2 linked regions of the Homo sapiens genome follow. The protein of the gene in region 1 interacts with the protein of each later gene in a pairwise test. Each region holds a gene or a part of one and is shown in the gene's direction. Other genes may lie near its edges.

Region 1 (3,910 bases):
TTAATCCATTTCATTCTTCACAGTAATCTTCCTAGCGCGTTGCCTGGGCACAGTGTAGCGCGTTGCCTGGGCACAGTGTAATGGTTAGCGTTTGAATTTAGGGATTAATGGTAATGAACATTCAAAGAGAGGATATTTGAAGAGAACAGTGTAATCCTTTAAAAAGAAACATTTACATATTGGCTTTGGAATCCCTTTTACTTGACAAATTAATTTTCGTTTTATCCTCAATCCTTTTCAGAATTCCAATATTTTCTCTTAGCTGTATAAAGGTAAAGTGACCCCCTCCCATAATAAAGAGCTACCATGTAAGGAGGGTATAGCAAAGAATTAATTATTAAAATAACTAGATCCATTTTTGTAAGGATCCTTTCAATTGTATCTTCCTATCTAATTCAAGATTGGTGGAAGGTCTATGCAAAGATTGATAACATGGTAACTGATTAGACATGTTATTTTAAATGCAGTCCAAGATTTGGATGAAAAGCTCACGTTCAGGTTTTTTTTGCCTTTTGTTGTAGGTACTCGATAAATATTTATTGAGGTAGTGAAACTAATCTGAAATTGGATCTGATACAGAGAATTTGACCGATTTTACAAGGTGTCCATTTACTTTTTCCCCATAAGTATTGTTTAAATAGGCTGTTTTATTATCGACTATCACACAGATCTTACTGATTTGCCTCATTTCCTTAAAGATGTAAAATAACTGTGTTTCTCTGTATGTTTGTGTTGCTAAAGAGGAGGTTGGGTATTGATCTGCAGTTTCTAGATTTGACTGGCACTAGGAGTAATTTAGCATTTATGAATTAGCTATTTACTGCTGTTTTATAGCAGTGATGTCACGTGTTCACTCTATAGAAAAGTTAGGTAAAGATTGGTCTGTCTTAAACTTTCTGAGACATAGGTTGTGACTAAAAATATGCCCTGGGTTTTCTTCCCCCTCCTGTCATTATTGAGGACTCCATGGTCTAAGAGATTAGGCTGAAGTTTTTGTTAGCCTTTTCAAATTGAATTGAATTTTAGAACAAGTTAAGACATTTTGGCTGATGCAGTGATTCATTGTAACATTGGACAAAATTTTTAGTTCAGCCATCTGTAAACAGGAGTACTGTACCATGGCTCTGGAAGCTAGTGTTTTTCTGTGTTCATAGATTATTTTGCAATGGTATTGAAAGGTACTAATTGCCATTTGAGGTCTTAAGTTCTTTGTAAATCTCATAAGCACAGTGGAAGCAGTAGCTACAAAGAATAGATGAATTTATCCATTTGCAGTAAAAACTGATTTGTATGTAATCTGTTGTACTTTGAACCCAGTTGAGCACTGGATTCTAAAACAAGTCTCTTTGGTCGTGGAGAGTTTCTATTTTAAACAAGAAAAGTTATCAGGAACTTTTGTGCTGCCTTAAAAACATCACTTTTTAAAATTCACCAGCAACAAAAAATAGTATCACTTACATTCCGTATTTCATAACATTGGACTATTTATTCCTAATGTTGGTCAAATCAAGGGTACAGTAGCAACTGATTATTTAAGCAGTAATTTAGAAAGATTTTTTTTCCTTTGAATCAGTAGAGGGTCAAAATTTTTAAAACTTTCCAAAGAACCTTAAAACAGGAAAAAATGAAAATGTGGGGGAAATGTACCAGTTTTTTTTAATTTAAATTCCCTAAAATAAAAATATTTACAACATGAGTTACAGAATTTCCATCTGATTTTTATTGTACAGGAGGAGTATATTCTGTGATATCAGTATACAATTCAAAATACAAAAAATTACCTGGGCGTAGTGGGAGGTGCCTGTAATCCGAGCTGCTTGGGAGACTGAGGCAGGAGAATCGCTTGAACCTGGGAGGCGGAGGTTGCAGTGAGCCAAGATCGCTCCACTGCACTCCAACCTGGGCGACAGAGTGAGACTGTCAAAAAAAAAAAAATTACTTAGATTGTGTATGAGGTGCCTGCATACTAGAAATGTTCTTTTGAGTTACAAATCTGTCTCTCTGACCATAGAGAGTAATTATTTAATCTTGTGAGTTTGAGTTTTATATCAAACCATTTCCTAAAGCTTACTTGTAATTACTTTTACTTTATGTTTTTGTAGTTATACATGTGTATATATATACACATACATACACACACACATATACATATATCAGTGAGACCTTTTAAATTTTAGCTGAATTCTGGTTTCATAACTTGTGATTTTTTTTCCGGTACTGGGGGATTGAATGTTTTTAACTGTTGTGCAGATAGACTGAATAAAGGAAGTGAGCATCCATTAAAAACTCTAGTAAATAATTTGGATTTTTTTTTTTTTTGAGATGGAGTCCCACTCTGTCGCCCAGGCTGGAGTGCAGTGGCACGGTCTCCGCTCACTGCAAGCTCCGCCTCCAGGGTTCACGCCATTCACCTGCCTCAGCCTCCCGAGTAGCTGAGACTACAGGCGCCCGCCACCACACCTGGCTAATTTTTTGTGTTTTAGTAGAGACGGGGTTTCACTGTGTTAGCCAGGATGGTCTGGATCTCCTGACCTCGAGATCCACCTGCCTCGGCCTCCCAAAGTGCTGGGATTACAGGCGTGAGCCACTGTGCCCGGCCTTTGTTTTTTTGTTGTTGTTGTTTTGTTTTTTGTTTTTTTTGAGACAGAGTCTCGCTCTGTCAGTCAGGCTGGAGTGCAGTGGCACGATCTCAGTTCACCACAGCCTCCGCCTCCAGGGGTCAAGCAGTCCTCCAGTCTAAGCCTCCCGAGTAGCTGGGAATACTGTGCCTGGCTAATTTTTTTTTTTTTTTTTTTTTTTTTTGAGACGGAGTCTCTCTCTGTCCCCCAGGCTGGAGTGCAGTGGTGCAATCTCAGCTCACTGCAACCTCCGCCTCCAGGTTCAAGCAGATCTCCTGCCTTAGCTAGTACTACAGGCGCACACCACCGCACCCAGCTAAGTTTTGTATTTTTAGTAGAGAGGGGATTTCACCATATTGGTCAGGCTGGTCTCGAATTCCTGACCTCAGGTGATCCACCTGGCTTGGCCTCCCAAAGTGCTGGGATTACAGGCATGAGCCACCGCGCCCGGCCAGGTTTTGTATTTTTTGTAGAGACGTTTCGCCATGTTGCCCAAGCTCACCTCAAACTCGTGGGCTCAAGGGATCTGCCCATCTTGGCCTCCCAAGTGCTGGGATTATAGGCATGAGCCACTGTGCCTGGCCCAGCATTTCACTAAGTAACTTTATTTTAAAAATATACAGTGAACTGATTGCCGAAGTGGTGGATTGCCTCTACCTGTTTCCTTTTTCTTTGCCTTGTAGGAAGGGAAAAAGATGAAAGGAAACATGTTTTGTCTATTTAGTAGCAATTTTTGGTGAAAGCTTCTGGAAAGGAAATGGAAAATGCTGGGTAAAATGAAATTATAATTATCTGTGTATTCTAAAATTTATCCTCACATTAGAATATATTTTTCAAAGTTACTTTATACTAAATTCAGGGACTTTCTAAGTTCTCAGTTAATAGAACTGAAAGGGTATCAATAAAATAAGGACTATATATATAATCTATTTTTACTTAGTTTTTATGCGCCAAAAGGTATGTATGTTGCATCCAGCTGTTTGTTACCTTGTGTTTTAAAGTTGCAGTTAGAATGTGGAATCCTATTACTACATTGTGCCAACATATTTGTGGCTGATGCTTCTAAGTTATCCACAAGCTTCTCAATACAATAGCAAAATGCAGGAATTCCTCTGGAATCTTGAATTGAGGGATAGGATGAGATATATAACATATGTTATCTGTTGTTTTCTCCTACTGCTCTTGAAATTAACAAACTTGAGATAGTGTACTGATTTGTATTTATAAGATTGGCTGAGTTCAAATATGTCTTTTTGACGTTCTTACCAATGTTTAAAATATAGAAAAGTATA
Region 2 (3,910 bases), on another chromosome or scaffold:
ATCCATGTACTTCTGAGATCTGTGAGCCCCGCCCCTGCTGAAGATGAGCCAGCCCCACCCAGTACATGCTGCCCTTGAAGGTCTATAGGCATTCTGCTGGCATTTCCTAAGTAGGATGTATTTGACCAAGCATCTCCCAGGACCAGAGCCCTGCAGGACATACCTGTCTAGGGCAGTTGCTATGCCCCACAGTCCCTTCACCATCATCCCCAGAAGCGCCTCGGCCAGCCTCATTCAACTTCTTGCCTTTTTATTACAGTGTTTGAGCCAACTATATAGTCCTGGTGTATTCCTAGGCAGGAGATCAAAGGGCCCCCCGGGTTGGGTGGTCCATGAGTGAGCATGTGATACCGCAGGAGTCTTCCTCCTGCCCTGACAACTTGCCTTGTACTACCAGTGCTGCTCAGGATGTCTGCAGCCACGAAGCTTCATTATAAATGCAGGAGCTCAGGCTCCAGGCCCACTGAATCTGAATCTGAGTCTACAGACCGCTCCTGCACTCTTAGAAGTTTGAGAAACCCCCCTGGGCTGGGGTCTCTTTCCCATATACAGCTAGGGAAGCTTGCTGGAGGGAGGACTGAAAAGAACAAGTGCCTGATCTACCTTCCCCTCTGCCCTTTCACAGGTGGGTGGATGCGTGGGAAGAGGGTGGGGCATTTCCTGCTATTCCCCCTTATTCACCTTTTCTCCACGGGGATTAGAGTCTTGACCGGAAAACATGGCTCTGGTCCCCAGCCCCTATGGGACTGAAAACCCGGAGGCTTGCATGTCTCAGATCCTCCAGAGGCTGATGTAAGAGTTGCTGAAGACCTCGGATCTTTCCTTTTGTGAAATGCAGCCCATGTGGCCGGGAAAATAGTGGGAGCTGGAAGTAACAGTTGTGGTTTTAAGCACACAGTAGATGCTCAAGAAATATATTGAGTACATGTCTTGGACTTTCCCCTCCCTAAATATTATCTGTCAAGTGGGCCTATTGGACTTGTTGACCTTGGAGGGCCCTGTCGGCTTGACCCACCAATTCGAAATGGTTGAGAAAGAGGTCTGTCTTTGTACCTTTTGCAGCCTGTTTTCCCAGTTCTTAGAACATTGGGGTGAGATCCAGAGATTTCAGAGATCCCCCTGGAACACGAGTGTTCTGTGACGAGTTCATGACCTTGGAGCCACCAACCATACCCCTCACCCGTTGTCCCCAGTTCTGGCCTTGCCGACCCACTGCGTGTTTCTTTGCTTCATGTGGGCTGTTCCCCGGGGAGGGAGCTCAGTGGAGAACAGAAAGAGGTGTGGGTGAGGGCTCCCCCTTGGTGGGGAGTGGGGCACAGGAGCCTCAGGCTCTGTTGACCATCAAAGAAGGGACTCGAGTGGGCAGGCCGCTCACTTGCTGTGGACCTTGGGCAAGTCTCTAACTCTCCCTGGGCCTTGGAAGTCAGGCCGAGGTGATCTCTGCCGCCCCCTCCCTGCCTGGGTTTTCACTCTTGTTCTGATCCCACTCTCTTCCGGGTGCCTCCCTTCCACTTCTCCGTAGCCTGTGGCTCCCCTCCCCACACCCGCCCTGGGCCCGGGTTAGGCTGGGGCGGGGGCGAGCTGCCCAGTCCAGAGACAAAGTCCAAGAGCCGCGAATGGGCTGGCGAGGGTCAACCGCGTGGCCTCTGCCAGGAAGCGCGCCGAGCGCCCGGGTGAGGAGGGCGTCAGCCAGGGCACAGCAGCTTTCTCGCCCAGCGAAGCCTGTGCGCCTTCCTCCCGCGCCTGCAGACAAGCGGAGCCCATGGGGGCCGTGGGCCCCACCTATCCCGACGTCTCCACTTGATCCAGAAGTTGTCCCAGTCCCCTTGGAGCATGAGCTGTTGCCTGGACAGCTGGGCTGTCGCCCAGGTTCTGCCACTGTCTAGCTGTGTAACCTTGAGCCAGTCCCTGCCCCTCTCTGGTCCTCAGTTTCCCCACCTGTAAAATGGGGGCACCGAGAACCCTCCTCCAGGACCTGCGGCGGGGCGGGGCGGCAGGGCGGGGGCCTCCCCGCCGCTCCCGCGCCCGCGGCTTGGGCTCCGCAGTGAGTGGGGAGCGGCGCCGGGGAAGGAGCGCTCCGCGGTCATGTGACGTCCCCCTCCCCGAACTGCGGCGGCGGCGAGCGCCGGCCGCATCTGAGCAGAGCTGCAGCGGCGGCCGCGGGCACCAGAGTGCCGAGCCCAGGACGCCCCCGGCCCAGGCCCTTGGGTGAGTGCGCCCCGCCAGGGCTGCGGCCCTGGAAAGGGGAAGGGGACAGAGGTGTCCAGACTCCCGTCGGCTCGCAGCGAAGACCCCGCGCGGGCGGGCGGGGACGGAGGGTGGGGGCGAACGCGTGGGGGACCCGGGTCTCCAGGGGCGAGGGGTGGGCGCAGCTGGGCTCGCGCAGCCCGGTCTTGACAGCAGCTGGAGAAGTGGGGGGAGGCCTGGACTGAGCCGGCTGAACCCCCAGCCTGTTGGACTTGGTCCAGGCCGCGGCCAGGGGGCTTTGGTCCCACCCCCCTGGGTGGGTGGGGAGTCCAGTTTTCCGCCCACCTCGAGGTGGGGGCGCCTGGGGTTTAGAGGAGGGACTGTGGGAAGTGGGCGCGTTTCCTCCATCCCTGGGGAGGGGCCCAAGCCCTAGCGCCCCCCAGAGGGTGGCGCTCCTGTCCTCAGAGGAGGGAAGTGGGGGCCTCAGATCAAGGACCCTGAGCGGGGAGGGCGGTGATGTCCTTGCATCCCCAGAGACAGGACGCATTCCCCTGTCCCTGACCCCCGCGGCAGAGCGGGGCACACGCGTCACGAAGTTGGGCGCCCCCTCGTCGCCTCCCCTGGCTCGGCAGGATCTGAGGACTCGGTGGGAATTCACGGGGCGGTTTCCGTGCCCTGCAGGGTTTGGTGCCAGCTGCGGGGCGCCTGGGCTTGGGGAAGAAACCTTGTGTACGCACACCTGCACACACACACAGTCTCCGGAGGTGAGCGGCCCCCTCCCTACCATAACAGACCCCAGCCTGTGCATGCCCTCGGAGTCCTTGTTGGGGTCATAGCACAGGCCCGGTGGTGGGGTCAGGAAGAACATCCACTGTTCTCAGGGCTCATTGGCCTCTGTCCCCGGGCTCCATTCCCCTCCCTGCCAAGTCAGAGGTCAGGCCCCTGGGGCGGCAGGCAGGAAGGACACTGAGGGAAGGGGCACTGAGGCAGGAGGGGCACTGAGGGAAGCTGGCCAGGTGGAAGTAGGAGAGAAAGGCAATGGGGGTGAGATGGTACCACTTCCTCCCCATATGAGGCTCTCAGGAGGCTCCTGGCCCCCCCTGCACAGGTAGTGGTCCCTCCTTCCTGAGGGTGTTTGGGGGAAAACGCTATGGTTGGGGCACTGGGGAAGGTTGCCTCGCAGATGAAACAGAACATTGGCCAAAGGTGTCCCTGAATGGGCTTCTGGACTGGCACAGGGCCCTGAGGGCTGTGGCTGAGTGGGGAGGCAGTGATCAGGTCCAGCTGGCCATGGGGGCCCCCCATTCCCTTCTCCATGACCTCAGCCTCACTCTGAGAGCCCCCAGCAGCTGGAAGGTCTGGTAAGGGGTGCGTGTTCCTTGATGGCCTTGGGAAGGGTTCCAGGGTAATGATTAATCCTCAGGTGGCACGAGCAATTTCCCCCTTCACAGCAATATTTCAGGGCAGGCGCTGAAGCCTCCATTGCACAGGTGAGGAAACTGAGGCTCGGAGAGGCTAAATGAACTGCCTGAGGTCACCTAGTCACCTTCAGCAAGGTCTAGAATCGTGGTACTCTGACTCTTGATGGGAGAAGATCTCCACAGCGGTGGAGAGGAGGAAGGGTGAACGCCGTGGTGGAGTGGTCCATGTGGACCTGCTCCCCTTTGCTGCCAGGAGGTGAGGGTGCCTGTGGCTGGAAGCTGGGTCAGGTTGAGGAGAGGGT

Evidence for each region.
Region 2: the proteins of RAP1B (region 1) and RAP1GAP interact in binary tests that used the Homo sapiens proteins (3 or more experiments, as listed by UniProt).

Annotation. Positions count from the first base shown.
Region 1 is NC_000012.12:68,613,663-68,617,572, forward strand, and holds part of RAP1B (ras-related protein Rap-1b isoform 1 precursor), read left to right. Parts: intron 1-3,910. UniProt on the Homo sapiens protein: GTP-binding protein that possesses intrinsic GTPase activity. Contributes to the polarizing activity of KRIT1 and CDH5 in the establishment and maintenance of correct endothelial cell polarity and vascular lumen.
Region 2 is NC_000001.11:21,667,552-21,671,461, reverse strand, and holds the start of RAP1GAP (rap1 GTPase-activating protein 1), read left to right. Parts: upstream 1-2,104; 5' UTR 2,105-2,208; intron 2,209-2,868; exon of another isoform or gene 2,869-2,951; intron 2,952-3,638; exon of another isoform or gene 3,639-3,864; intron 3,865-3,910. UniProt on the Homo sapiens protein: GTPase activator for the nuclear Ras-related regulatory protein RAP-1A (KREV-1), converting it to the putatively inactive GDP-bound state.